4 linked regions of the Homo sapiens genome follow. The protein of the gene in region 3 binds, or shares a complex with, the protein of the main gene of each other region. Each region holds a gene or a part of one and is shown on either strand. Other genes may lie near its edges. A codon is read from its position in the direction of its gene.

Region 1 (7,022 bases), on a different chromosome or scaffold from region 3:
ACTCTGAATTAGAATACCAAAAAGAAATTTGGAAAAGTAAACCAGAGAACTTTAGTCATCACTAGGTTTTTCTGAAGGTGGGACGTGATCACTTACCTGAATGACTACATATTGCACTCAGTTGGTTGCTGGGCTGGAAACCCAGAATTTCAATACAGACACAATAAAGGCAGTTATCATCTGTATGTTCCTGTAGTCCAGTGTCTTCTGTACTTTCTAAAAACAGAGAGGCATCTGAATGGATTGAATTCATTATTTCCGTAAGACTCATCTGCTGTCGTAGCAAGTGAAAAGAATTTTTTACAAGACCTCCAGTTCCAGATGGAAGACCTGTGCATAAGTAAATATAAAACATAATCCAATAAAGATAATACTTTTCAAGGTACCTTAAATTATGTGAAATTTTAAAGAAAGCTTAAGCACATTTTATGACTCAAAATCTAACTGGAAAGAAAAAAAGAATAATTTGCTTTAAGTTATAAAAATAAGGAAAGCCAGCAGATGTTTATTATTTTAATATATAGTGTTTTAAATACAAAATGGAAAATTGAGATTATATAATACATCATTTCAATTATCGTCAATATTTGCCTAAAGATATGTAATAATTCTAAGTATAAAGAGGCATTTGTTTAAAAAGTCATTAAGAATATAAAGCTATAAAACCTGTGGCTTATATTTACATATTAAAATATAACAGTTCAAAACAAAGACCGTGTATTTTATAAGTACATTTCTTTCTCCTTACTCTAAACAAACAGCTATTTCCTGGATCTATGAGGATTAGTGTTATACATTGTTCATGTGCTACTTTTAAAAAACAGAAACAACTAATTTGGTTTCTATTTCCTTGAAAGGTTGAGTACTTCACTGAAAACACTGTTAAGTCCCTCACACATACACAAAAATGTGGTTTAATTTTAAGCTGACTTTAACAATTGTTTTGGTATAATTTTAAAGTTGATCCAAAAGTGAGTCTTCCTAAATTTTTAGTGTTATCCTACTAGAAAGAACTAAGAGTTTTCTTTTTAATATAAAGAGGCATCTCACAAGTACAATGCACAATGCATTACCTCCTGCATCATGGGCAAATGCTCTTGCACCTCGATCATCATGTGGTGGTATGTTTTTTGTCTGAAAATAGGGAATATCCTTTACCTAAAAAAAGATATAAACCATGGTAAGTCCTGCTATAAAAATAAGCCCACTTTATGAAAATTAGCAAAATTAAACAAAATAAAATTAAAATAGAATTACCATAGCATATGAACCTATAATCAAGTTTACTGAAGGTTCAACTACCAAAACTTAACAAAATAACCCAAAAAGTCCTTATTATATTATTAGTGACTAAATGGACATTAATTATTTTAGCGTTTATCTAAAATGTCTTTCAACTTCTAAGAAAATGTGTTCTTTAGTACTATATACCATCTAGAGATCTGTGGGTATCTCCTGGGATTAGGGTCACCTTATATTACTGGGTACCACATATGGCTGGCTACCTTTTATGGGATAAATAGGAATGAGGATTTAAAAATGAGGTATAAGTTAAATGTGACTAAAAAACAAGTTAGAAATTTCATAAATTTCTACAGAGAATATATGGATAAAGAAATCAAATGAGATACTGATTTAATATGGGAAGAGAGGGAAGGATAATGTTCTAAGGACTAAATAAAAGAGTACAGAGTAGTTGAAAAGGGCAAAATAATTTTAATCTTAAAGTTTCTTTAAACAAAACGGTCTTAAAAATCATGCTGCCCCAAACTGGTGCCCACCCTAAATTATGATTTCTAGTAAGCAGTTACAGCATATGAAAAAATAGGAAACCAACTCATAGGAAAACAATAAAATGTATGATAATACCTGGAATATATCATTTATATCCACCGGGAGAGCAAGACCAATGTAATCATCTGAACCCCCATATGTGGCACTGGACACCATGGACCGCACTGAGGAAGATCGTTGCAGGGTATTTTGATTAATAGGACTCAATAAATCTTCTTTATCTAATGATGCATAACTTAAGGCTTTCATGAACCTATAAAACCATAAAGAAACCACTTGCATTAGTTTCTTGATCTGTAATTTTAATCATATGAAGAAATAACATATATTCCTACCTTCATAAAAGACAAGTAGCTAGTCATGTATTAAGCAGTGTCATCTTGTTTACTGGCAACACATAAACACTTTAAAATATTAGCTGTTATAGACCGCTATGTAAAAGGTCACCAGTAATGTTGACTGTTACCAAAAACAACTGTTATGGTCTCTCAGGTAAAGGTGAAAAGGTGGGCAATTAGAATAACTTTCAACATCTAGAAGTAAAAAAAGAAACTGACCTCAGTAGTCAGAGCATGGTCCAAGGACTATCTTCATAATCACTTGAGACTACTAGATTTGGCATTTATGTAACTAAGGATATGTGTATCAACTCTATTTAATATTATATTTATAAAAAATGAGATCAATTACATATCATTATTTGTGTGATAATTACCTTAATGCCTTCATTATCAACATAAGATTTATGTAGCACACAAGACAGACACAAGAGCAAAATGGTCATTTATGACGAGATATCCTTGTAAAAAGCACTGATATTTCCACAATGTACTGATATTTCCACAATGTACTCCTTACTACTAGAGATTCCATAACAAATATGATACACTGATATTTCCATAAGATACATGTTTCTCATACAGATTCTTACTTATGCAACAGACATGCTAAAATATTTACTTGGTATCTGCTGTATATATACAAGGCACTATGCAAGGTTCCACATTTATATACATTTATATGAAGATATTTTTGTTTGGAAAACCAAGTCTTTAAAATGTACGAATGCAGCCTAATATTAAATCAAATAATTATTTTGTAAAACACACAAAAGAAATGCTTTCTAAATAGTAGCTATTAACATAGCAAAAACCATGCTCCTAATTTCCACCCAAAAAACACTCTTTCAAACTGTAATCTGTTACATTTCTTTGGTTCCCATAAAACTCTTCAAGGATTACTGGAGTGGGAGGAAAACAATTATTGGATTATTCCCCTTCCCAATTCCTATTTCAACCAGTATAGGTCCCTTTCTATCTATTCTACCTATTGGGTTTCCACAGAAATCTTTATGTGAAAAAATAATTTCTCTGCTTAAAAAACAACAATACAAAAGTTTACAACCACTGATCTAGTGCAATCTCCACCAGATGAGGTAACTGAGGCTTAGGAATGTTCAAAATTCATGAACTTTACTGCATAGATTTGTAACAGTGAGCTGTTGAGAACTTTCCCTGGCTTTGTCCTGGACAAGGTTGCCAAAGCTAGTGAGTTCCAGATAGATGAGACATTGCTGCATAATTTCTTAAATCCTGTAAGGGTACACAATTCATTGTCTGCTACCAAGAAACCCTCTATTAAATGTGTTAAGCATTATTGAAACAAAACTGCTTAATGTTATTAAGAATAATGTAAGGGCTAGATGGATTACATTAAATAACTACCAATGATGATGATAAATAGCTAACTTTTATTGAGTGCTTAATATGTGCTAAAGTATTCTAACATATATTGTTGACATATAAGTACCTGACATATATTAATCCACTTAAATAAATGTAAATGAATAATTTAAAACTAAGGAAAGTTGTTTAGAAGCATTTGGTCCAACCACAAAAATTATAGGTACAAAATTTTTTTGCAGCAAATACTGTGTATCTTTTAAAAGTAAAATCTAAACTGTTCACTTTGACTAGCTTGATATAATCTAAATATGGTATAGAAATCCCTGCTGAGTCATGAGGACCAAGTATTTCATTTAGTGTTTATTAGGTTCCTATTTAATAATCACAGCTACTTAAAGTGAAAATAATTTCACTGAAATTTTCATTTATCTTTTTAAAAAAATAATAAAGAGGTCAACTTTTGGAGCCTTAAATTGACCTACCTGAAAAGGTTGTTTGTTATTGTAGGTCTTAAGCTCCTGATTCCCCCGACATGCTTCTTTTTAAAATCGATCCTTGCAGAAGCGAGAAATAAATAAAAAAAAGCTTGTGACTTGTATGTCCTTTGCAAAGCATGTATGTTTATTTTCAGGGCCTATAGGATTTTCTTCCCCCCTCGCAGCTGCAAGAATCCATTTCAAGTCATATCGGGTAACAAGGAGCTTATAGCCTACCATAGTAAACAATTATAATAGGTCAGTGATGAGGCTCACATAGTGTAAAACCTGGCTAACATTTTGTATTTAAATTTGTTAAAATGCAACCATTATTGGTCACTTCTAAACATATATTTGCTTACCTGCTTGGTGTTAATCTGGACTCAAAACTGTTGGCCTTCATGGTGATGGTATCAGTAAATAGCACATCTTTTGCTGGAGATGCCAAAGCTTCAGAGTGAGATAAGGATGGATGCATTCTTTGTTGCTGTAGTCTTTTCAGTGTAGCATAGCCAAAAGCATCTCTAGAACTTGTGTAACTAAAGTTACAATCTGCTAGACTTTTAATTGTAGCAATAGAGGGTGCTTTAAGGGACTGTGCTCTTCTAGGAAGCGTATGAGAAGAACCTGGAGGCACCAGGGACACCGAATTTGATTTGGAGAGAGACAGATGGTTAGACTGTGGCGTCAAATAGTGGCTTGTCTTAATAGTTTTAGTACTTACCACAGTACTCATGCTTCCACAGTCTGTGTCCATAGTTGTAGCATCTACACCTACTGTCTCTCGTGAAGGACTTGAGCTCATTGAACTTATGCCACTTGTTGTAGTGTCTGTATTGAAACTTTGGCTACGTATCTTCATATGTGAGCTCGTTGAACTTTCTACTACTAACCTCTCTCGGCTTGTATTTTCTCTGTGATTCTCTGTACCAAAATTCTTGGTGAATTTTAAGTCATTTTCTCCAATGCTTGGTGTACTACCAGTGTCTTCAATGTGCTTATTCCCCATAAATGAAGTCTCTAATTGTAATGTTTTCTGTACAGTGGATATGGGTGTAAAATCATCACTATGATTAAAATCAACACTGGGCTCCGTAAGTGTTCTGATTCGCCTGTTGCTTGTCTTACTTTCAGATGATAATTTCCCTCCTTTTGGATCACTGCTACTACGATGTTTTTTGTTAGGCAAAGTAAGCGAATTTAAGATACGATTCTTCACAAGTTTACTAGAAGCAAAGAAAGGGAATGAATTTTTATCCTTTATGGGTCCAGATCGGTCATAAAATGTTGGCTCTGTATCTTCATTGATATCAAGGAAAAATGTGCTAGTAGAGCTGCTGCCAAACCGGTCATCCTCCAATATGAACATACCTATGATTGAAGGATCAATTAATAAAAACACATATAAAATGACAAATTCATGATAACTATTAGTGACATCACATTTCAGGAAATTTTTTTTTAGTCATCTAGAGGAAAAAATTTAAAAATAAACGGTTAAACCATTCAGCTACTTGAAAATATCTTTCTTGAAACCCAGAGTTTGGACTTGAATAAAATGTAAAATTATGTAATTTATGAGAATCTCCTGTTATTTCCAAAGAAAAATTATTATAAGACCCACTATGGCACAGGTTACATGAAGTTTCTTTTGATTCTCCAAATATTCAGGATGAAATTAAAGGGAAAAAGGAGACTTGGCCATGGATGCTTACTCAATTACTACAGATTCCTAGTGGTTCTTCTTTAAATTACTATAAGCAGGAGAAATTCACCTTGTAAGAAATGAATTCCCAATCTTAAAATATACTTACAGAGAACCAAGTGGTAACATTATAAATTCATGTTTAAATTATGTTTATTTCTCATTTTACCTTAGATACTAAGAAACTCATTAAATTTAGTGCCCAATTCTACTAGAAGACGCAACCCAAGTGAGTGCCTAATGACATCTATACGATTTTTCTTTTATTAACTTTTCTGTTGAATAATTACAAATACTTCAAATATATTTTCAAAGAAGGTAAAAGAAAATCCTAAGTGAATTTGCATACTGCATTACCATTTCTATATTTTGTCAATTCTAAGATGCACACTTTTCACATTTAATCCCTTCTATTTTCACACAGAATCTGATTCTAAAATCAATATGCATCTTGTAGTATGTCCTAGTTTAATAGGCAGCACTTCTTCTTTCTTCTTCTTTTGTGGTACATAAAATATTGGCATATTTCATAATTCATGGCATCTCAGATTTGGTGAAATACACAGTCTGATAAAGCTGACACTATCTTCTTAAAAGGAAGAACCATGCCTTAAATTTTGTACACCTAACACCACTTAGCACAGGACTTAAAACCACAAATCATTTTATATATAACTATTTTTGTTACTCTATTAACAATTTCACTATTTTAAAATTTAGTGCTTCTCTCAAAAATGAAGATGTGAATATAATATCAGTTAAAAATATATTCTGGCTCAACAATCTCAGTATCTGAAAAATGAGTAAAAAGATTAAATAAAGAAGGTAGACAAATAAATACTTGTTATATTTGTTTCTTTTCTGTCAAAAAAAGGAGGACTGGTTCTTCTGGCACATGGCTTATTACATAACTTTGTAGGAATCCTCAAAAGCTACTTAGAATATAAGGAGAGAGAAAAATGTAAGCTGGTGATTATACTCTTTGTTATGAAAATATACACATTCTCCAAGAGGCTATTATTGCCAAATAATTATCTTAGACAAAAGCAAATTACAAATGTAACAAATACATTTAAATTCTAAAATTCAAATATAAATGTTAACATTGGCTAACTTTATATGAACCTGTCAGGATACTCACTCGATGGCACAGATTCACTTTCACTATTATGTCTAGAGCTGGTTGACTCCGAGTTCAAACTTAGAGTGCTTGGGATAGATGAAAGTTCATTACAGAGTTGTTCCACATCATCTGGAACCACTGGCCACAGATGTTTGCGACTATGCCTCACAGCATCCCAGTTGTGACATTTTAGAATATCACAGCCTTGTTTGGTTTTAGCTATGAGCCCAAGTACATAT
Region 2 (7,022 bases), on a different chromosome or scaffold from region 3:
AGCCCATTACTTGGTAACATGAATAAAATATTTTATGAAAAATAACTATTTTCCAAAACAAAACCAAAACTTAGAAAAGTGGTATTGTTTCACACTTCAGTAAATCTCTTTAATGATGTGGCTTAATAGAAGATATGGATTCTTATATCTGCATCTGCATTCAATCTATTATGATCACACATCTGGAAAACTTGTGAAAGAATGGGAGTTAAAAGGGTAAAGGACATCTTAATGTTATTATGAAAACAGTTTTGACCTCTTGCACACCAGAAAAGTCTTAGTAACCTGAGGGGTTCCTAGACCACATTTTGAGAACTGTTTTAGGCTATGCAAACTGGTTGGGGGGAGGTTGGGGTAGGCAGAGAGCTAGAAGATACATTTTAGTGTAATTCTCCTCATCTATTCCTAATTGCTTTGGCCTACATTTGAAATAAAGCGTGGAGGCAAACGGGATAAGATACATGTTTGTAGTGGTTGTTAACTTCACCCTAGACAAGCAGCCAATAAGTCTAGGTAGAGCAGAGTAAGGCGGGGAACTATGCCGTGACCGTGTGTGATACAATTTTTCTAGCCTGTGGTGCTTTTTGCGGCAGGGCTTAGGAGTAAGGTTAGTATGTTATCATTTGGGAAACCAAATTATTATTTTGGGTCTTCAGTCAATTATGATGCTGTGTATATTTAGTGTTTATCTACAATATATGCACATTCATTAATTTGGAGCTACTCATCCTATAATAAATAGTTGTGCATTTACTCCCATTTTTTTCTGCATTTCTCTCCTTATTTATAATTATGTGTTACATGAGGGAAAGGAGGTGAAATTAAACATTCATATTATTTCAAAAAATTTGAAACAACTAACTAAAAAATATGTTTTATTTTCTGTATGGTGTTTGTTATACAATCTGTCAATATTCATGCACCTCTTGGGAGACAGTGTATGAAAAGCAAAGAGTAACAGTCACATGGATTACTGATTACTGAGATATATTCACTTGCATCTTTTTTTTTTTTTGAGACGGAGTGGCTCTGTCGCCCAGGCTGGAGTGCAGTGGCGTGATCTCGGCTCACTGCAAGCTCCGCCTCCTGGGTTCACGCCATTCTTCTGCCTCAGCCTCCCAAGTAGCTGGGACTACAGGCGCCCGCCACCACGCCCGGCTAATTTTTTTATATTTTTAGTAGAGACGGGGTTTCACCGGGTTAGCCAGGATGGTCTTGATCTCCTGACCTCGTGATCCACCCTCCTCGGCCTCCCAAAGTGCTAGGATTATAGGCGTGAGCCACCGTGCCCGGCTCACTTGCATCTCTTAACAGCTGTTTTCTTACTAAAAACAGTGTTTATCTCTAATCTTTTTGTTTGTTTGTTTGTTTTGAGATGGAGTCTTACTCCGTCACCCAATCTGGAGTGCAGTGGCGTGATCTGGGCTCACTGCAACCTCTGCCTCCCGGGTTCAAGTGATTCTCCTTCCTCAGCCTCCCCAGTAGCTAGGACTACAGGAGAGCGCCACCACGCCTGATTAATTTTTGTATTTTTAGTAGAGAGAGGGTTTCACCATATTGGCCAGGCTGGTCTTGAACTCCTGGCCTCAGGTGATCCACCCGCCTTGGCCTCTGAAAGTGCTGGGATTACAGGCATGAGCCGCCGCACCCGGCTTTCTAATCTTTATCTTTTTTTGTGCAGCGGTGATACAGGATTATGTATTGTACTGAACAGTTAATTCGGAGTTCTCTTGGTTTTTAGCTTTATTTTCCCCAGAGATTTTTTTTTTTTTTTTTTTTTTTGAGACGGAGTCTTGCTCTATCGCCAGGCTGGAGTGCAGTGGCGCCATCTCGGCTCATTGCAACCTCGGACTCCTATTTTCCCCAGAGATATTTCACACATTAAAATGTCGTCAAATATTGTTCTTCTTTGCCTCAGTGTTTAAATTTTTATTTCCCCATGACACAATCCAGCTTTATTTGACACTCATTCTCTCAACTCTCATCTGATTCTTACTGTTAATATTTATCCAAGAGAACTACTGCCATGATGCTTTAAAAGTTTTTCTGTAGCTGTTGCATATTGACTTCTAACACTTAGAGGTGGGGGTCCACTAGGAAAACTGTAACAATAAGAGTGGAGATAGCTGTCAGCAACTTTTGTGAGGGTGTGCTACAGGGTGTAGAGCACTGTGAAGTCTCTACATGAGTGAAGTCATGATATGATCCTTTGAGAGCCTTTAGCCGCCGCAGAACAGCAGTCTGGCTATTTAGATAGAACAACTTGATTTTAAGATAAAAGAACTGTCTATGTAGCATTTATGCATTTTTCTTAAGCGTCGATGGAGGAGTTTGTAAATGAAGTACAGTTCATTACGATACACGTCTGCAGTCAACTGGAATTTTCATGATTGAATTTTGTAAGGTATTTTGAAATAATTTTTCATATAAAGGTGAGTTTGTATTAAAAGGTACTGGTGGAGTATTTGATAGTGTATTAACCTTATGTGTGACATGTTCTAATATAGTCACATTTTCATTATTTTTATTATAAGGCCTGCTGAAAATGACTGAATATAAACTTGTGGTAGTTGGAGCTGGTGGCGTAGGCAAGAGTGCCTTGACGATACAGCTAATTCAGAATCATTTTGTGGACGAATATGATCCAACAATAGAGGTAAATCTTGTTTTAATATGCATATTACTGGTGCAGGACCATTCTTTGATACAGATAAAGGTTTCTCTGACCATTTTCATGAGTACTTATTACAAGATAATTATGCTGAAAGTTAAGTTATCTGAAATGTACCTTGGGTTTCAAGTTATATGTAACCATTAATATGGGAACTTTACTTTCCTTGGGAGTATGTCAGGGTCCATGATGTTCACTCTCTGTGCATTTTGATTGGAAGTGTATTTCAGAGTTTCGTGAGAGGGTAGAAATTTGTATCCTATCTGGACCTAAAAGACAATCTTTTTATTGTAACTTTTATTTTTATGGGTTTCTTGGTATTGTGACATCATATGTAAAGGTTAGATTTAATTGTACTAGTGAAATATAATTGTTTGATGGTTGATTTTTTTAAACTTCATCAGCAGTATTTTCCTATCTTCTTCTCAACATTAGAGAACCTACAACTACCGGATAAATTTTACAAAATGAATTATTTGCCTAAGGTGTGGTTTATATAAAGGTACTATTACCAACTTTACCTTTGCTTTGTTGTCATTTTTAAATTTACTCAAGGAAATACTAGGATTTAAAAAAAAATTCCTTGAGTAAATTTAAATTGTTATCATGTTTTTGAGGATTATTTTCAGATTTTTTTAGTTTAATGAAAATTTACCAAAGTAAAGACCAGCAGCAGAATGATAAGTAAAGACCTGTAAGACACCTTGAAGGTCATGGAGTAGAACTTCCATCCCAAGCAGATGAGGATTTATTTAATCTCAAAGACCTCCAGGAGGGGACATTCCCCAACTGTCCTTGTTAACTCATTTTCAGAACATATTTATTAGCATATTTTACATGTAATTTGGATCTTCATGTTAAATTTAACATCAGTGGAGATGGAAAATAAGCATATCGCCTTGTCTTTGAAATAGCCCTATATTGTTAGATTGTTTCTTAGGCTTCTTTACCCTGGGTTAAGCAGTCCTAATACTTTAGCATTTATTCTACATCTAGTGTACTAATTTAAAAAAATCAGTTCTGAAAAATTTCTAAGAACTTTCTTCAAGTTCCAAGCTGTGAAATCTAGAACAGGTCAAAGTGCCTTATTAACGTACTGTACTGTGTAGTGTCTTGAAGAGACACTTTGCGCTGAGGCAAGTTCTGAGGGCATTGGGTGGCCTTGGGAAGATATTTATGCAGTTTAGAACCTGGAGAATTGATTAGATAACTAATCATAAGGAAACGTCACATATTTTTGGTACTATAAAAAAGTGGAGAAATAATGCCTATTTGCAAAGATTTGATTTAAACATAGAAACAACTTTATTTGGCTTCCAATTTTAAGAATTTACAGCAGTAAAGGGGAACAGTCTAATTGAAGTAGACTGCCTATGCAATAGTCTCTGTATATTTACTTTTGACAAGTTAATTCAATGTGTACTATAGTTTTGTTTCTTTGAAGAGGTTTGAATAGTGCACCCATTTTAATCTGTATTGCAAATTCAGGGTTACTTGGCAGACTCTACTATTTAAATCAGATGTAAAAGGAAGTTTTAATATAATTCACTTTATGCCTGAAAGTTTTCCTGGGATTTTGGAAGGTGATTTTACTGGAAATGCTGTCTGTCTTCCCTGAAAATCTGAGAAATTCCATTACACTTTGTTTCCAATCAGAGGTCATGAGTGCTATATGAGTATATACAGCATGACGTCATGAATGTGATAAAGTGGGTTAGGAAACCTTTTGCTAATGATTGTTAAAATGCAATATAAATGTTGAAGAAATAAAGCTAACAGTTAAGCCTTTATTTGGGCGGAAGGCTGAAAAAGTTTATAAACTTAAACCTATAACTCTGCTTATGATTTCTGCCAAACCAGAAGACTTGACTCTGGGAAGCATTGGTTACCTGTGAACTTTGAAACTGACGGTCCCTGACGTAGTTTAGTCACCTGGGAAAAGGTATCTGAGATTATCTCTTATCTCCCAAGTTACAGTGAGTCTCTGAGGGAACTGACACATTACATTAAGTTCTTGGTGTAGTTAAACTGTAAGAAAGGCAGGAGAACTTAGTAGTTAAATAGTTGGTTAAATGGAAATGCTGACTCCATGTTATTGTAAAAAGTTAAAAATTTAGGAGGATATGGGGATTTCACTGCCATTGCAGGTTTTGATTGGTATTTACCAATCCGTGTGGGTCAGAGAGAAAATTAGAAAGGATATGACTGCACATTTTGGAATTATTAGCAGTTTTTCTACATTTAAAATGGAAATAAATTTTTTAAAAATTTAAATCAAGTAATACTGTATTTTTTGGTGATTTAGATTTTTCAAAATTTACACTAAGAGATAGTAAGGAGGGTGGCTATTGTTTCTTTCAATAATGTCTCTGAGAGGTTGTAACTCATCTAAGGATACGTAGCTAATAAGTGGTAGGATTTCAATTTAAATTCTCTGAGACCAAGTTAAGTAGAATTTGCACTGTACTCTTGTATAACTTTTTAAAACTGAAAATTAGCTATCTTTCAAATTAAGAAAATATTTACTAATGGAGACTAATTCAGATTTGTAAGTATACCAAAATTTGAACTTAGCCTGCTATCTAATGGCAACTTAGTGGCAGAGGTATGATGTAAAATCATTCAGGTATGACACATAGATGGAGTATGTTTGTATTCGAGGCTGTGCACATAATCACCTTTACTTGTATTGTGAAGTATATATTGTTATCTTTTATGAAGCCCACTAAAGAGATAATGAAATACCTCGTTATTAGGGCAAGATTATTGAAAACTCAAAATAGCCCCCAAACACAATACTTGGCTAGAAATATATACCTTTATAGTTCAGAGATCATTTATTATCAAAACCCTGAAGTTTTTTTTCTAAGGTAAAATTTGGTGGAAGAGGAAAAGTCTCGTTTTAAAAAAATGTAGGTAGTTACAGAGATCAGAATGATTAGTTGATCACTTACCAAATATATATTAAGTATCTACTGTATATAATATGCTAGTAAGAATAAATATAGCAGGAAGTATTTTTTCCCAGGCTCTAATTGTTTGACATCAGCATGCTTTTATTGTGGCACTTATAATTCAGTTCAAGTATTATGCCCCTCTTTGATGGAACAGTTTCCTATTCAGTAAGGAAGACCAGATTAATCATTGGATTGGTTTGTTTCATCTTTAGTGTTCTGAGCTGTAGAGTATTTATTTACCAAGGTTTATTTTAATTTTTATTTTATTTTTATTTTTCCATGTTCATTGTAGAATTCATTTTACCTACGAATGAAGTATGTAGATTATAGAGAGAAAATTTGTAAAATTAAACTGATACTGAAGACTGGTATAAGAAAAGCCTTATGTAATTTGTAAGCTGCTATTCTTCTGAGTTTATACATATATCTTTAGTAATCAATGAGGGATGGTTGGGTGACTGCCCTCCAGGGGACATTTGGCAACATCTGGAGATGTTTTTGGTTGCCACAACTTGGGGAGAGAGTACTGCTACTGGCATCTATTGAGTAGATGCTATTACTTTAAATGGCAAAGCTGCAGTTACCTTTGCACCAACCTAATATTAAACTTCCTGCAGTGCACGGGAAAGCCCCCACAACAGGGTTATCTGACCCCAAACCTCAATGGTGTTAAGATCCAAACCTTGATATGTTAACCTGTAGCTTTAAACATCCTTTAAATTGTCAAATTCATGTCCCTGACATAAGGTTTATGTTAGATTTTCAAGTATAACAAAGATTTAAACTTTAACTTTTGTACGTTAATGATATGTTAGCTTACTCCAGTCTTCTATTAAAACATTCTGTTTTTAAAATCAGAGACACACAGCAATTTTATAAATCATTTCTCTTCAAGGCTGTGAAGCTCTCCCCACTTTTGTGAGTGCCCTCTACTGGTCAAATTATTTGCTTTATAACAAGTAACAGTGAAATCCTAAGTTTGTGTAGTTTCGCTGTTTAAATTATGGGTGGCATCAATTTATAAATATATTCGTTTTATTTAAAAGTCTTATATGATTGATTTCGTATCATTTTTGCTCTCTGCTAATATTAATATAAAGATTACTGTCTGTATTAGTTAGGCCTAACTAAGTAGGTGAGTATAGTGAACTAAGAAAGGAAACGAGGCAGTATATAAGAAAATAGGGTGGTTCAGTTGTTAACACTTACTGAGCTTACTTTGTTGAAGGGACTAAAAGGCAGCAGTGTGGCTCTCTGAGCTTCTTTGCATGCACTCAGGAGCTGCTTAATGGAGTCCAAGGCTTGGTGGTGTGTTACAGGGGATGATAGGAGGGTCCTATTCAGAAGTGGCAAATTGTGAAAGTGCACATTTTGTAGAGTTTTATAGGACTGTA
Region 3 (7,022 bases):
GAAGCTGGGGTGTGCTGAAGGGGAAAGTGACACGGCCTTGGACACACCACTAGGTCTCTGTTCCTAACTTTTAGTAAGACACTACCCTCGAAGCAAATGCACTCATTTAAACAAATGGCATAGTTAAAACTATTGACTAAGACCTAAACATTTCTTCTGAGAAATCGAACCATAGCTTTTCCAATCTGCCTGTTCAATATGGGAACAGATTTTAAAGAGAGTAACATAATCAATCCTCCGCCCCAAAGAATGGTCCATCATACCAACCATGATAAAGAGTACACCTGTTTATTAAAAGGAAAAACAGAAATGTACATTTTTGTTGTTTGCTTTAAGAAATTTGATCAAGTTGCAAGGAAATGTGTGGGCACGGCTCTGTACATCCTCGGGCAGGGTGGCAGGCATTGAAGGTGGCTGGGCGGCACGTGGCTCCTCTAGGGGGTGGTCTGACCCCCAAGCATCGCTTATCAAAGCCACTGCCAAGCAGACTTCCGTCCCATGGCAATGTCCCCAGCGCTCCCTCCTAGGGGGCCCCCGACACCTTCCCCGAGAGCCCACCTGCCCTGTGCCAGTGAGCCAGGGGCTGGCCTCCCCCCGAGGACTTCAGGACACCGGGTGGACTCTAGGGCACTTGGCCCTGGCAGGCAGGCTCTGAGCTACGGAACAGATTGAGGCTGGAGGCCAGTGTCACTGCTGCCCGGATTTCTTCTCCTTCTGGAAGCTGAAGCTCGTACGTCTGTTCAGTTTTCTTTGTTTTTGAGCAAAGTAGTCAGCCCGGGCAGTGCTAGCTCGCGATTCCAGGATGTAGTTAACCTAGAAACAAGAGCACACAGCCCGGTCACCTTGCCAGCCGCTCCCTACCCACCCAGGGCATCGGAGGGGGTGGCAGGGAAGGCCCTGACCTGGGCCGGGTGCCTCAGGGCCAGGTGCTGTCGTGTGGAAGGAGTCCAGTCATCACAGCAACCTGGCAGCGGCTGGGCCCAGAGCCGCTGCTCTACGATGGGAAAACAGAGGCTTGGAGAAGCCAAGTGGCCAGTCCAGGCTTCCCAGTCAGTGAGCGGCGAGCTCTTCAGGTTCCGGAGCCCATGCTCCCTCCTGGCGTGAGCCACTCCCGGAAGGCTGTGCCCTGGGCTGCCTGGCTATGCCTCCCACCTGCTGTGTGACCTGGACAAGCACATAACCTCTCTGAGCCTGCCTTTCCCTGTGTGAAGGCCGAGAACACAGGGATGAAAAGCAAACCAAGACAGGCTCTCCATCCAGCCTCCCACCAGCCAGGCGCAGAGCTTCCCACCACAGTGCTTCCTTCAGGGCTCATGAGTGCCCAGCCAGGCAGGGCTCACTTGACAAAAAGGAAAGAGGCTCAGAGAGGGAGGCCAAAGTGGCCTAGGCCACGTGGAAGTCAGGGTGAGAGCTGTGAGGGGGCTGAAAGAGCCCTGTGTGAAGGGCGGGGCTGCCTCCTGGGCTCCTCTCAGGCCTTCTGCACGCTGCTGCTTCCACGAAGCCCTGGGAGTCTGCCCGGAGTCGCATGTGCATCTTCCACTCTGTGTAGCAGCTGCACCGCCAGGCGCTTCCCCAGCGCTACAGCGCTGAGACTTGGTCCTGGCCCTGGGGAGCTTGCTGCCTGGTGAGTGGGTGTCCAGCAGCAGAACCAGCACTGCAGCAGGCAAAGAGGAGCATCAAGGAATGGGGCTGAGTATCAGGGAGGTGTGGAGGAGGGAAGGCTTCCAGAGGAAAAGAGTGAGCGGGCTTTTGAGGGATACACAGGAGTTTTTGAGTGCGCAACGGGGAGGAGAGACGCAGCATGCATCAAGGCACAGCAGGGGCACGCCACAAGGGAGTGTCCCTGGAACTGCGAGAGCTTGGCTGGCTTAGTGAAATGAGGTGGTGGGAGCCAGGGAGGGGTGCTACAGTGGGATGCACACGCCCCAGTGCTGAGGACAGCCTGTGCCTGGGCATGGGCGGCAGCAGCAGTGTGAAATCAGTGGTGGCAACTGGCACTGCTCGGAGTGCCTTTCAGCGCTCATGGAATCTTCACAATAATCTTGAGACAGATGCCACTGTCATCCCCATGCACAGGTGAGGAAGTCAAGGCCAATGACAATAATGTCATTTAGTCAAGGTCACAAAGCTAGAAGGTGTCAGGCGCTTGGCAAACACCCCTTCCTGCTCCGCAGCCTCTCACCTCCTCTGCTCCTCTGGCTGGGGCTTTTGGTGAACAGACGCTATTTCTCTTCACCTGCAAGTATCTAAAAGTTTTGACTAGAAGGCTGAATATTTCTGACAAGAGAGGCCAGCCACTGCCTCTGCTGATTCTACTCCGAGGGCCATGTGTCCTGTGCCAGAGGGAGAGGAGCTTCTGCTGACTCCGAGAAGGAACCAGAGGGCTCCCGGGGGAGGCAGCGCGAGATGGCAACGCCTCAGATGGCCGAGGCTTCAACACTGTCCCTCCCAACTTTCTGCTCTGCTGGTTGGAGCAGCAGGCGTTAAAGGCTGGTGCGTGAGTACAGAAGGCCTGACACGCTCTGCCCGCTGCCTCGCCAAGTTACCAGCTGAGAGCAATAAATCATGAGGACCGCAGGGCCAGGTTGATGATTTGGGACAATACAGTGTATGGAAATAAGAGGTTTTATCATTCTTAATACAAGAAATCTTTGGATTATATTGTTTGCACACTCAGCCAACCTAGTGTTTTCAGTGTATTTTTGGCACATATAACTTGACAAAAGCATTTTAAAATGATCCTTAACAAGCCAACTATTTCCCAAATTTATTATCTTCAGTGCTTTGTGATAATCACATAGATAATGTTAATGGAAGATTAATGTAATAATCAAAAGATAAAAACGCCCTTTGCTCTGCCATTAGCTGGTTAATATGCTGTGGCTTAAAACTGGCACAATTTTATGCACTATAGAGTGTTTCATTTTCAACGCATTTTACAGCTTAAGGCATAAAAATATAGGGAGTTTTCATGGTCAATAAAGCCACAGCCTCCATCACTCAATCACGAGAAGAACCTGATTTGAAGAGCCCGACAACTCCTCTGAGATTCATCTCAAAGCCTGTGGAATTAGGGACCACCCATGGCTTAGCTCAGTGACATCTTGATGGGAAGAGGGCGGCTCTGGAGCTTCTCGGGCCAGGTTCAAGTAGAGGCTCCACCCTTGTGTGCTCTGTGACCTTGGGCCTCCATCTCCTCTTCTATAAAATGGGGACAATGTCTACATTCTGGAGGGCGGTCAGGAAGATTAAACAAGATAATGGACATTAGATGTACTGCATGTAGCTGGTGTTCAATAAATGGGAGACGTTCCTATTTCTACAAGCGCAAAAAGCTCGATGGAGGCTTTGTTCATGATTGTTTATTTGACATCAGATTGTGGCTCTTATTTCCTCCCTTCAATTTCCATCTAAGCTCTCATTTTATGTAAAATTCCTGAATTCTAGAACAACAGCATGCATTACTAGAGTCTAAACTGACTCCTCAAGAGCTTCTGATGGCAACAACATTTCTCCCAAGCTCCCGGACACAGGGCTGGGCTTCCGTTGCTTGGTACTGGTGCAAAGCTCACAAAGACACACTCAGGACACTGCAGGAATGGTGGATAAAACTAAGTATTCCAATTGCTATAAAAATCAGAGATGGGGCCGGGCCTGGCGGCTCATGTCTTTAATCTCAGCACTTTGGGAGGCTGAGGTGGGCAGATCACTTGAGGCCAGGAGTTCGAGACCAGCCTGGCCAATGGTGAAACCCCGTTCTCTACTAAAAATAGAAAAAAATTAGCTGGGCTTGGTGGCGGGTGCCTGTAATCCCAGCTACTCGGGAAGCTGAGGCAGGAGAATCACTTGAACCCGGGAGGTGGAGGTTGCAGTGTGCAGAGATCACACGACTACACCCCAGCCTGTGCAACAGAGTGAGACTCTGTCTCAAAAAAAAAAAAAAAAAAAAAAAAAAATCAGAGGTGGGAGAAGTACTATCTCATCTTCCATCAGGCTCATGATCATTAGCTCTAAGTAAATCAGGCCTAGGGTATGCTACAACTCTTCTGGAGTCTTGTGCATGACACAATATTTCTGCAAATATTTTGATATGGAAACAGACACTTTAGGGAAGGTGACAGACCTCACGGATTTTGCAGAGAAGCATCTGCTTCGAGGGAGCATTTGGACCTGTAAAATGATTTCTCTGCACTTGATCTTCCACAGTCTCATACTGAAGTCATAAACCTGTGTTTCTGTCATCAATCTGCTGTTGTGAAAATTATTTTGATGTCAAACATGGGATTATAATTTTACTAGAATCCTTCTCAAGTCTTGAATATTTTAATGCTGGCTATAAAAAAAAAAAAAAAAAGTCCAGCCCCTATCGGGGTAATGGAATATTTCTCTGCCAGGTCCCTGAACACTCTGCACAAGGGGCCCGTGCTGTCTGTGATGCTCCAGTGGGTAACTCGAAGCTCGCTGGCTGCAAGCACTCCCAGGCAGGCCCGTGTCCCCACTCCTTGGTCCAAGGAGGGGCTCTGATCAGGCTGGTCTATGAACCCTCTCCCTTTCATCCAGCTAATCATGCTACTCTGTCTGCTCCAAACTGTCCTTCCAGCTGCTCTTTTAAATTGCTACCTACTCCTTTTGAAAATCTTTTGCAGCCATGGGGAATGTGTCTCAATATATTCCTGGATCGCAATTCTATTTCATTGAAATCTCCCACACAACTCTTAGGTCATGCATATCTGGGGAATTAAAACACAAGTCTGAAATCTGTCAAATCTGGGGGCAAGTTCTGGTTCTGCCAACTTACCAGAGTCATGATCCTGGCTCTGCTACTTTATTCCTGATCCTCACTTTTCATCTGGGAAATGGGAACAACTTTATCTCATGATCTCACAGAGCTGTGAAGATGCACTGTGATGGGACACGTGGAGCCTCTGGCCCAGGTCCTGCACTGTGCAGTCCCTCAGCATATCTTCGCTACTTCTGCTATTATGTGATGACTTCAACTCTTCAGAAGAGACTGAATGATAACTTACATAGGTTTACCATGTCTCATCTGATTTGTACTCTAGCAGCCCTGGTGGGGTGGGGTAGCATAGGTACTATGATCCCCACTTTACAGGTGGGGACACTGAGTCCCAGAAAGGTGATGTGACTAGCCAGGGTCACACAACTAGGGGTGGGGGAGCCCTCTCTGGTCCTCGCCCCTGCTCTGCCACAGCAGCTGCTTTTCCTATCTGATCAACCTATGGAAGATTTGGCTTGAAGAAAGGATTCTCTGCTTGGGAGAGGCTGAGACCCCTAGTCCAGGGCTACTCAGAGTGTGGTGCCCAGACCAGCGGCCAAAGCAGCATCTGGCGCTTCTTGGAAACGTATGATCTCAGGTCCTATCCCAGACCTCCCAAATCCGCAAGACCCCTGGAGGCTCCCATGCCAAGCAGAGCTCCTCTCAGCCACACTCCACTCTGCAAGGCCCTGCACGGCCTAGCCCCGCCAGCCCCGCCAGCTCCCCCAGCCCCCCCAGCCCCCCATCCCCCTGTGCCTGCCTTGCCTCAGCCCATTCCCAGGCTGCCTGTCTGTGGTGCTTCCTCTCTCTTTACCTGGTCAACATCTGTGCCTTTTCAGTCATCCTTCAGGGTTCAGCTCTCCCTGCCTCCATACCTCCACCCCAAGTCAGTTTACTGTGACACACCCACACCTTTGAGACTAACGATCTCTTTGTAATTTTGTGTTTTATGCCTGTTTCCTCTGGTAGAGGAAAAGCTCTCCAGGGGCAGGGACAGAGTCTGTCACCGTGGCATCCCAGGCCGTGGCCAGGCACACGGAAGGTGCTCAGTGAGTATACTGTTTAGGTATGGTGACATACAAGTCTAGCAGAAAGTTAGGTATGTTTAGAACAGGTTGCTAAAATCACCTTCAGCATAATTATCTTCAAAACAATAATAATTTCCTCAGAGTCTGCTCCAGGAGCTTCAAGGAGCTCCTGACAATGGTTGCAGGAAAATAAACAGTACATAAAAGGAATAAACAAATACAGGAAGAGCCAGGGTTATTGGGATTGGGAGGAAACTGAAAAGGGTCCTGCTTTGACTGAAGCAGGTGCAGAGCAGCTGAGCGGGGGCTGGTGTGGCCCTGGCACAGGCACTCACCCCTGGGTGGCTGGCAAGCTGCGACACTCCTCCTCTGCCAAACTGGGCCCGGGAACCTTCTATAGAGCTGCGGAGTGGGTGGGGCTGCGGCCATGCCGCAAACAGCCTGAAGAGAAGCTGGACCCACCTACCCTGTCTCTGGTTCAAGAAGGAATACTCACCTTGAGCACAATTTCATTGACGGTAGCAGCGTCCGATTCAAAGTAGAGGTGTTTATAGTCGTGATTGCTTAGATACGTGAGTTTAAATATTGCGTGACCTGCAGAGACAGAAAACTGTGTTGAGGGGTTCTGGTGAGTTAACTATGGCGGGGGCCTCCATATGTTCTCCCCTATCATTCCAATTCGAGCGAGAGCAAGTGGAGGCTGAGCAGCACCTAGTCTTCCCAGGAGTAGTTCGTTTTCTCATTACAGGCTGGGTATAAAATGGACAATGAAAAAATTTTAAAGACTCAACAGCCAGTTAGGTCCCATTCCACTCTGGAATGCATTCAGGGGAATGCCACGTTAGGAAGGCTTTACGGAACTGCTGCTATATGATAATTACATGCAAAAGGTGGCGTTTTTAAGGGAGAAGGCTAATTAACTCCACATTATTACTCTAAAAATAAACTAACTGTTTAAAGTCAGATAAATGAGCAACAGGAAGGAGAAGGGTCAAAAGCCACACTATTATGAGGCTGCTCCACAGCCTGGGCTCCTGCTGGGAGAGGACTCCTGCCTGGAGAGGGAGAATCCCAGTTTTAGACCCTGCTGGAAGCTGCTCCCAAAGGCCTCAGGTCATCTCAACCCTGGGAGGATGGGGGCGGGGGGGGCACCATGGAAAGTGGGCACCTCACAAAGCGACCGACTCCAGGGGGCAGAGCTTCTGAATATAAATCTG
Region 4 (7,353 bases), on a different chromosome or scaffold from region 3:
GTTGGGATTACAGGTGCCTGGCACCTCACCCAGCTAATTTTTGTACTTTTAGTAGAGACTGGGTTTCACCATCTTGGCCAGGCTGGTCTCAAACTCCTGAACTCGTGATCCACCCGCCTTGGCCTCCCAAAGCGCTGGGATTACAGGCATGAGCCACTGCACCCGGCCAAAAAGTTTTCTTTACTTTCCTTTTTTTTTTTTTTTTTTTTTAGATGGAGTTTCACCCTGTCACCAGGCTGGAGTGCAGTGGTACAATCTCGGCTCACTGCAACCTCTGACTCCCAGGTTCAAGCGATTCTCCTGCCTCAGCCTCCCGAGTAGCTGGGACTACAGGCGTGTGCCACCATGCCCAGCTAATTTTTGTATTTTTAGTAGAGATGGGGTTTCACCATGTTGGCCAGGATGGTCTCAATCTCTTGACCTCGTGATCCACTGGCCTCGGCCTCCCAAAGTGCTGGGATTACAGGCGTGAGCCACCGCGCCTGGCCTACACTTAGCTAATTTTTTTTAAGGTTTTTGCAGAGAAGAGGTCATCTTGCCATCTTGCCCAGGTTAGCCTCAAACTCCTAGGATCAAGCGATCCTCCCACCTCGATCCCCCAAAGTGCTGGGATTACAGGTGTGAGCTACCATGCCCAGCCAAAAGAAAATGTTACTAGATATGCTGAAAACCAGGAATTTGGCAGGTAAGGCGTAGAGGGAAAAGCATCCCAGACACAGTCAAGGGCTCAAAGGGGAGAACATGGCCAGGTGCTGTGGCTCACGCCTGTAATCCTAGCACTTTGGGAGGCCGAGGCGGCAGATCACGAGATCAGGAGTTCGAAACCAGCCTGGCCAATATGGTGAAACCCCGTCTCTCCTATAAATACAAAAAGGTAGCCAGGCGTGGTGCGGGGTGCCTGTAATCTCAGCTACTTGGGAGGAGTCTGAGGCAGGAGAATTGCTTGAACCCAGGAGGCAGAGGTTGCAGTGAGCCGAGATTGCGCCATTGCACTCCATCCCCGTCAGCAGTGTGAGATTCCGTCTGAAAAACAAAACAAAAGAAAACAAAAGAGGAGAACATGTCTCCTTTGGCCAGAGTACAGGACCCATGGAGTATTAGTCCATTTTCATACTGCAATAAAGAACACCTGAGACTGGATAATTTATAAAGGAAAGAGGTGTAGTTGACTCACAGTTCAGCATGGCTGGGGAGGCCTCAGGAAAGTTACAATCATGGCGGAAGGCGAAGCGGAAGCAAGGCACCTTCTCCGCAAGGCGGCAGGAAGGAGAAGTGGAGCAAAGGAGGAGGAACCCCTTATAAAACCATCAGATCTCTTGAGATCTCACTCACTATCATGAGAACGGCATGGGGGAACCTGCCCTCATGATTCAGTTACCTCCACCTGGTCTCTCCTTTGACACATGGGGATTATGGGGATTACAATTCAAGACGAGATTTGGGTGGGGACACAAAGCCTAATGGTATCACATGGAGAGGAGATGGAAGCCACAGGATGGGCCAGGGCCAGGGCCAGGCCCAGGAGTCTGGAGAGGGACAGGGACCCCTGAGGGCTTCTAATGGGGTGATCAAGTCATTCCTAGGTTTTGCTGGGGGTTTTTGTTTTGTTTTGAGAAAAGGTCTTGCTCTGTCACCCAGCCTGGAGTGCAGTGGCTCAACCACAGCTTACTGCAGCCTCGAGTTCCTGGCCTCGAGTGATCCTTCCACCTCAGCCTCCCAAAGCTGGGACCACAGGCACGCACCACCATTCCTGACTAATTTTTAAATTTTTTGTAGAGATGGGGTATCACTATATTGTTCAGGATGGTCTTGAACTTCTGGGCTCGAGTGATCCTCCTGCCTCAGCCTTCGAAAGTGCTGGGATTACAGGCATGAATCACTGTGCTGGGCTCAGACTGAGGTTTTTAAAAGGCCACTCTGGCCGGGCGCGATGGCTCACGCCTGTAAACCTAGCACTTTGAGAAGCTGAGGTGGGTGGGTCACTTGAGGTTAGGAATTCAAGACCAGCCTGACCAACATGGAGAAACCCTGTCTCTACTAAAAATACAAAATTAGCTGGGATGGTGGTGCATGCCTGTAATCCCAGCTACTCAGGAGACTGAGGAACCCAGGAGGTGGAGGTTGCAGCGAGTCGAGATCGCGCCATTGCACTCCAGCCTGGGCAACAAGAGTGAAAATCCGTCTCAAAAATAAATAAATAAATAAATAAATAAATAAATAAATAAATAAAAGGCCATTCTGCACTGTGGTGGACAGTTTGGAAGGGGGCCAGAGTGGCTGGGGCAAGGAAGGAGGCTTTTATGGGGGATGGGGGTGGTGAGCTAGAACCAGGGCAGTGGAAAGGACAGGAAGGTATATCACAGGTAAAATCGGTGGCTGAAGGGAAGGGAAGGGTGAGGGAGGGGAGGTGTCGGATCTTGCCCAGCTGTAATACAAGGTGGGCACTGCCCACAGAAGGGGAGCTACTCAGGGATGGGTTGTCTTGGCCCTGGAATATGGTGGACCCTGCGGGGCATTCAAGGGACAGTGTCTTAACAGGGAGCTGAGGCCATCAGAGCTGGAGACAGGGTGGAAGGGGCCCAGGACAGGGACAGCATTGGAAGCTCCAGAGCTAGCAGTCATCAGCCCCCTGGTATCTCGTGGGGTGCACAGAGTGAATGCTGAAGGGCCTGAGTCCTTGCGGGCAGGCAGGGAAAGAGACTAAATGTCGGGGACAGGAGCTAGGAGAAGGCAGCCTTTCAGGCATGGTGCCGTCAACCATGGCTCAGATGCGTCAAGAAGTGGGAGGGGGCCGGGCGCAGTGGCTCACGCCTGTAATCCCAGCACTTTGGGAGGCTGAGGGGGGCGGATCACGAGGTCACGAGATCAAGACCATCCACCATCCTGGCCAACATGGTGAAAAGTCTGTCTCTACTAAAAATAGAAAAATTAACTGGGTGTGGTGGCATGCACCTGTAATCCCAGCTACCCGGGAGGCTGAGGCAGGAGAATAGCTTGAACCCGGGAGGTGGAGATTGTGGAGAGCCGAGATCGCACCACTGCACTCCAGCCTGGCAACAAAGCGAGACTCCGTCTCAATAAAAAAAAAAAAAAAAAGAAAGAAGAAGTGGGAAGAGGCCGGGCGCAGTGGCTCACGCCTGTAATCCCAGCACTTTGGGAGGCTGAGGTAGGCGGATCACTTGAGGTCAGGAGTTTGAGACCAGCCTTGCGAACATGGTGAAATCCCGTCTCCACTAAAAATACAAAAATCAGCCAGGTGTGGTGGTGCGTGCCTGTAATCCCAGCTACTCGGGAGGCTGAGGCAGGAAAATCGCTTGAACCTGGGAGGCAGAGGTTTTGCAGTGAGTCGAGATTGCACCACTGCACTCCAGCCTGGGCGAGAAAGCGAGACTCTGTCTCGAGAGAAAAAAAAAAAAAAGGTGGGAAGAAGGAAAAGTATCCACTGGATTTAGCAAAGTGAGATTGTCAGTGACCTTGAGGAATTTCCACTGGAGAGCTAGAGAGCTGGGGGTAAAAGGCAGATGACTGGGGTTGCGGAATGAGTGGGAGGTGAGGACGTGGAACTAGAAAAATGGTGAGGACCGCTCTTTGAAGAAGATAATTTGGGATTGTTTTATGGTGTTTTTTTAAAGGCTAACCGGCAGGAAGGAGAGGAGGTGAAGGTATAGGAAGGAAGGCTCCATGGGAACTATGGCCTGGTCAAGGGACAAGATGCACCCCCTCTGCGGCCAGAGGAAGGGGTGCAGCCAGGTCTGTAAGAGCAGCAGGAAAAAACCATGCGACAGCCTGTCTCAAGGGTGAGGGCACCGGCGTGGAGCTCACAGAGCTGGAATGAGGGCCTGTGGTTTTGAGGGGGACCCTGGGCTCAGTGGGATGTCCTGAGGGTCAGGCTGGGGCTGGGGTGCCAGATCTAGCAAGTAAAACTACAGGATACCCAATAAAATTTTTTTAGCATAAGTATTTCCCATGCAATGTCCTGGATATACTTACACTAAAAAAAAAATTATTCGTTACTTGTCTGAATTCAAGTCCTGTAATTTTCAGCCAATCCTAGCCCAGCGTGGCGCAGTAGTGGGTCAGGGAGGGCACCGGAACAGCGCGACCCGACAGCCCGGGAAACGGACAGCCGTGTCAGAAGGGCAGGTGCCAGTGGGCAGGAGGCCGGAGAGAAAGCCGCAGCTTCCTTCCACCTCGCGCCGGGCCCGCGGCCGCGCACGGGGACCGCTCCGAGTTCCTCCCGGCGGGAACCCCCCGCCCCAGAACTTTGGTCTCGTCCCACCCACCCCCGCCCGCGCCATGGTCTCGCCCTAGGGAGCCATCGATAACTCTACGCTCGGCCTCGATCGACTCGCTCCGGCTCCCCTCGCCGTCCTGGACACGGCGGAGTGCGGAGCCGCCCGTAAGGTACGGAGGCCGCGAGCCAGGGGCCGGGAACCGGCTGCTGGGTGGCTGGGAGAGCACGGCCAGGGGAAGCCGGCCAGCAGGACGGAGCAAGGGCGGTCACCGGAGGAAAGGGGAGCTCGGGGGTCCAGCCAGACTGCGCCCTTTCCCATCAGGGCCTGCCGCTGGCCTGCTACGCATGCGCAGCCGCAGCGCTCGGCTTTCCCCGGCCCATCCGCCGCCTTGCGCACGCGCAGCCCGCCCCTGCGGCAGAGTGGCGCCCGCGCGTGACTCCCCCCTGCCGGCTGCGGAGGTGGGGGGGGGACGGCGCCCCCGCCGTGTGCGTGGGGCGGGGATGGAGCACGCGCCCTGGAGCCCCGGAGCCAGGTATCACGCGTGTGACGCGTGTCCCTGAACCTACCTGCGCTTCTTGTCCCAACTCTAAAATGGGAATGATAAGCGCCATTCGGCAGCGCCTTGTGGGTCTATAATCTACTTAGCACAGAGAGTGTCTTCTAAGTACTTCACATCCTTCTCTGCAGATGCTCTGACCTTTGACCCCTGCCGTTCAGCTCTAGGGCCCGTGCAGGCCACACCATGAACACCTCCCCAGGCACGGTGGGCAGTGACCCGGTCATCCTGGCCACTGCAGGCTACGACCACACCGTGCGCTTCTGGCAGGCCCACAGCGGCATCTGCACCCGGACGGTGCAGCACCAGGACTCCGTATCCTCCACCCGGGGCGGGCAGGGCGGCGCTGGGGGGATGCCTCGTGTGGGGACCACAGCCTGTGTGAAGGCCAGATGGTGGAGGCCTGGGGGGCCCTGGCCTCAGGGCTACCTTCCCGTCATCCTCCTTAACAGTCCCAGCAGGTGAATGCCTTGGAGGTCACACCGGACCGCAGCATGATTGCTGCTGCAGGTATCTGTGATCCTTGATCTCTAAACTCCTGAGCTCTGGTGGGTCGACCTCAGCACAGCCAAGCTTCAGTTCAGCCTGTGTCCCTAGGTTACCAGCACATCCGCATGTATGATCTCAACTCCAATAACCCTAACCCCATCATCAGCTACGACGGCGTCAACAAGAACATCGCGTCTGTGGGCTTCCACGAAGACGGCCGCTGGATGTACACGGGCGGCGAGGACTGCACAGCCAGGATCTGGGACCTCAGGTGCGGTGGGGAGGGGGCGTGCTGCCCGGGGCTGGGGTGGGCTGCTCTGGGAGACCGTTTTAGGTTGGGTTCTCTTCAAGCAGAGGCTGAGACAGGGAGCTTCCTGTGGGCGACTTACTGAGAGAAGTGAGGACAGGAGGAGAGTGAATTGCATCAGAGCGCGAGTCCTGCCTTGAGCCCGGAGCCAGCTTGTTATTCCCCTTCCACCAGCCACTGGCTTAGGCTCCCTGCTGGAGCAGAGGGCCCTGCGTCCCAAGTATTTCCCAAGAGGCAGGTCCTTCAGCAGAGGGAGGGGAGGAATGGCCAGGCCGAGGCCATCTGGGTAGGGCACCAACAAGCCCAGATGGACAGCATGTGCCCCGGCCCGGCCCGCAGGTCCCGGAACCTGCAGTGCCAGCGGATCTTCCAGGTGAACGCACCCATTAACTGCGTGTGCCTGCACCCCAACCAGGTGAGGGGTGCTCATGGGGCCAGGCACCCTGGGACTTTGGAGGGCTGGGCTTGGGCCCTGCCTCACCACCCCTGCACCCCAGGCAGAGCTCATCGTGGGTGACCAGAGCGGGGCTATCCACATCTGGGACTTGAAAACAGACCACAACGAGCAGCTGATCCCTGAGCCCGAGGTCTCCATCACGTCCGCCCACATCGATCCCGACGCCAGCTACATGGCAGCTGTCAATAGCACCGTGAGTCCTGGTGGCAGGTGCTGGGTGCGGGCAGCTTGGCACTCAGCCCTCAGCCTCTGCAGGTGGGCTTATTCCTGGATGTCCCTTAGCGGCCCCCTCCTGCTTTCCCCATCCCGGGCACTAACACCCACCTTGCCAGCAAAGCCAGAAGCCTTAGTGTCGCTCCCGATGGCTTAGTCCTGTCTGCAGGTCGGTCACTCCGCTTTCTGGAGTCTCTCCCAAGTCGATCCACTTCCCTCTTTTCACTCTGTTGCCTCCTGGTCCCAGTCACCCTTGTTTCTGGTGACGGCTGACACACTCTCTGAGGCTTCCTTTCCCCCTCCCTGACCTCCCCTGGCCCCTGACACGTTCTCTCTTGGATGCTTCTAGTGGTGCCTGGTCAGTATCAGCCAGGTGGCGTCATTCCCCTGAGGAGACCCGGGGCTGCTGGCCTCGCCCGTAGGCTGCTGTGGCGTGGCCCCTGCTCTTCTCTCCAGCCTCATTTTTTTTCATTAACTTCATTTAATCCCAGTGCATCACTTGTACCTCTTGCCCCCGGATTTCCCTTCTGCTGGCCTTTGTCATGCTGTCTCTCTAGCTGGTGCCCTTCTCCTGTCTACTTCCGTTGGCCATCGGCATCCTCCAGGAAGGAGAATTTGAGTCCTTGGCCAGGCGTGGCCTCCTGTTCTTGGCTTGCCAGGTGTGGCCCTTGCTTGGGGCCAGGCTTCCCAGGTGCCTTCTGCAGGCAGGACCAGAGGGGCCTGCCTGCCCCTCACCCGGGGTCCCCATGCACAGTTGGCCCCCAGTGTTGGCCCCCAGGGCATCCTTCCCTGTGTCTCAGACCTGAGGCCTTGGGCCCTCCGTGACGGTCCTCCTGACCTCTAGGGAAACTGCTATGTCTGGAATCTGACGGGGGGCATTGGTGACGAGGTGACCCAGCTCATCCCCAAGACTAAGATCCCTGCCCACACGCGCTACGCCCTGCAGTGTCGCTTCAGCCCCGACTCCACGTGCGTGCAGGGCCTGCTGGCCCGGGAGGGGACCTGCCTGGGCTGGGGGCTGGAGAGGGGAGGGGCTGCTGGATGGAGTGGCTGCTGCTGGACACGCCCCATGCCCACCCACTAGGCTCCTCGCCAC

Evidence for each region.
Region 1: the proteins of MAPKAP1 (region 3) and RICTOR are in contact, whole or in part, in a cryo-EM structure (PDB 7PE7), measured with the Homo sapiens proteins. Residues at the interface, in NP_001006618.1 of Homo sapiens: Ala2, Phe3, Leu4, Asp5, Asn6, Pro7, Ile9, Ile10, Leu11, Ala12, His13, Ile14, Arg15, Gln16, Ser17, His18, Thr20, Ser21, Asp22, Asp23, Thr24, Met26, Cys27, Met29, Val30, Leu31, Ile32, Asp35, Val36, Ser84; in NP_689969.2 of Homo sapiens: Arg108, Gln137, Glu140, Thr144, Leu147, Arg148, Arg151, Lys152, Thr155, Arg182, Met183, Arg185, Ala186, Ala189, Cys192, Glu193, Leu196, Leu220, Arg222, Ile223, Glu225, Ala226, Leu227, Thr229, Thr230, His233, Asn236, Arg293, Trp295, Glu844.
Region 2: the proteins of MAPKAP1 (region 3) and KRAS are in contact, whole or in part, in a crystal structure (PDB 7LC1), measured with the Homo sapiens proteins. Residues at the interface, in NP_001006618.1 of Homo sapiens: Phe280, His287, Gly288, Phe289, Ser290, Leu291, Ile292, Gln293, Lys307, Lys310, Arg311, Arg312, Lys313, Gly314, Ser315, Phe363, Glu365, Ile369, Val374, Met377, Leu378, Ser380, His381, Tyr484 (codon at 807), Glu487 (codon at 798), Ser488 (codon at 795); in NP_001356715.1 of Homo sapiens: Ile21, His27, Val29, Glu31, Asp33, Pro34, Ile36, Glu37, Asp38, Ser39, Tyr40, Arg41, Leu56, Glu62, Glu63, Tyr64, Ser65, Ala66, Met67, Asp69, Gln70.
Region 4: the proteins of MAPKAP1 (region 3) and MLST8 are in contact, whole or in part, in a cryo-EM structure (PDB 7PE8), measured with the Homo sapiens proteins. Residues at the interface, in NP_001006618.1 of Homo sapiens: Lys102, Cys103, Lys104, Asn105, Ile106, Gln107, Trp108, Lys109, Arg111, Asn112, Ser113, Lys121, Leu123, Phe124, Glu125, Lys126, Lys127, Ser128, Leu129, Gly137, Lys138, Gln139, Ser140, Ile141, Leu142, Val144, Arg145, Leu146; in NP_001186102.1 of Homo sapiens: Ala29, His30, Pro77, Ile78, Ile79, Ser80, Tyr81, Asp82, Gly83, Arg98, Arg110, Ile111, Trp112, Gln120, Cys121, Gln122, Arg123, Ile124, Asn139, Gln140, Ala141, Leu157, Lys158, Ile203, Glu206, Ser279, Gly280, Asp281, Gln283, Asp322.

Annotation. Positions count from the first base shown.
Region 1 is NC_000005.10:38,945,395-38,952,416, forward strand, and holds part of RICTOR (rapamycin-insensitive companion of mTOR), read right to left. Parts: coding exon 6,802-7,022; intron 5,327-6,801; coding exon 4,318-5,326; intron 4,034-4,317; coding exon of another isoform or gene 3,962-4,033; intron 2,048-3,961; coding exon 1,870-2,047; intron 1,159-1,869; coding exon 1,074-1,158; intron 331-1,073; coding exon 97-330; exon of another isoform or gene 1-96. UniProt on the Homo sapiens protein: Component of the mechanistic target of rapamycin complex 2 (mTORC2), which transduces signals from growth factors to pathways involved in proliferation, cytoskeletal organization, lipogenesis and anabolic output.
Region 2 is NC_000012.12:25,240,908-25,247,929, reverse strand, and holds part of KRAS (GTPase KRas), read left to right. Parts: intron 1-2,534; 5' UTR 2,535-2,545; coding exon 2,546-2,656; intron 2,657-7,022. UniProt on the Homo sapiens protein: Ras proteins bind GDP/GTP and possess intrinsic GTPase activity. Plays an important role in the regulation of cell proliferation.
Region 3 is NC_000009.12:125,438,200-125,445,221, forward strand, and holds part of MAPKAP1 (target of rapamycin complex 2 subunit MAPKAP1), read right to left. Parts: intron 6,400-7,022; coding exon 6,302-6,399; intron 814-6,301; coding exon 688-813; 3' UTR 1-687. UniProt on the Homo sapiens protein: Component of the mechanistic target of rapamycin complex 2 (mTORC2), which transduces signals from growth factors to pathways involved in proliferation, cytoskeletal organization, lipogenesis and anabolic output.
Region 4 is NC_000016.10:2,201,109-2,208,461, forward strand, and holds the start of MLST8 (target of rapamycin complex subunit LST8), read left to right. Parts: upstream 1-4,345; 5' UTR 4,346-4,404; exon of another isoform or gene 4,405-4,579; coding exon of another isoform or gene 4,580-4,767; intron 4,768-4,922; 5' UTR 4,923-4,952; coding exon of another isoform or gene 4,953-4,977; coding exon 4,978-5,106; intron 5,107-5,249; coding exon 5,250-5,301; exon of another isoform or gene 5,302-5,370; coding exon of another isoform or gene 5,371-5,388; coding exon 5,389-5,551; intron 5,552-5,926; coding exon 5,927-6,002; intron 6,003-6,084; coding exon 6,085-6,237; exon of another isoform or gene 6,238-6,916; intron 6,917-7,101; coding exon 7,102-7,226; intron 7,227-7,341; coding exon 7,342-7,353.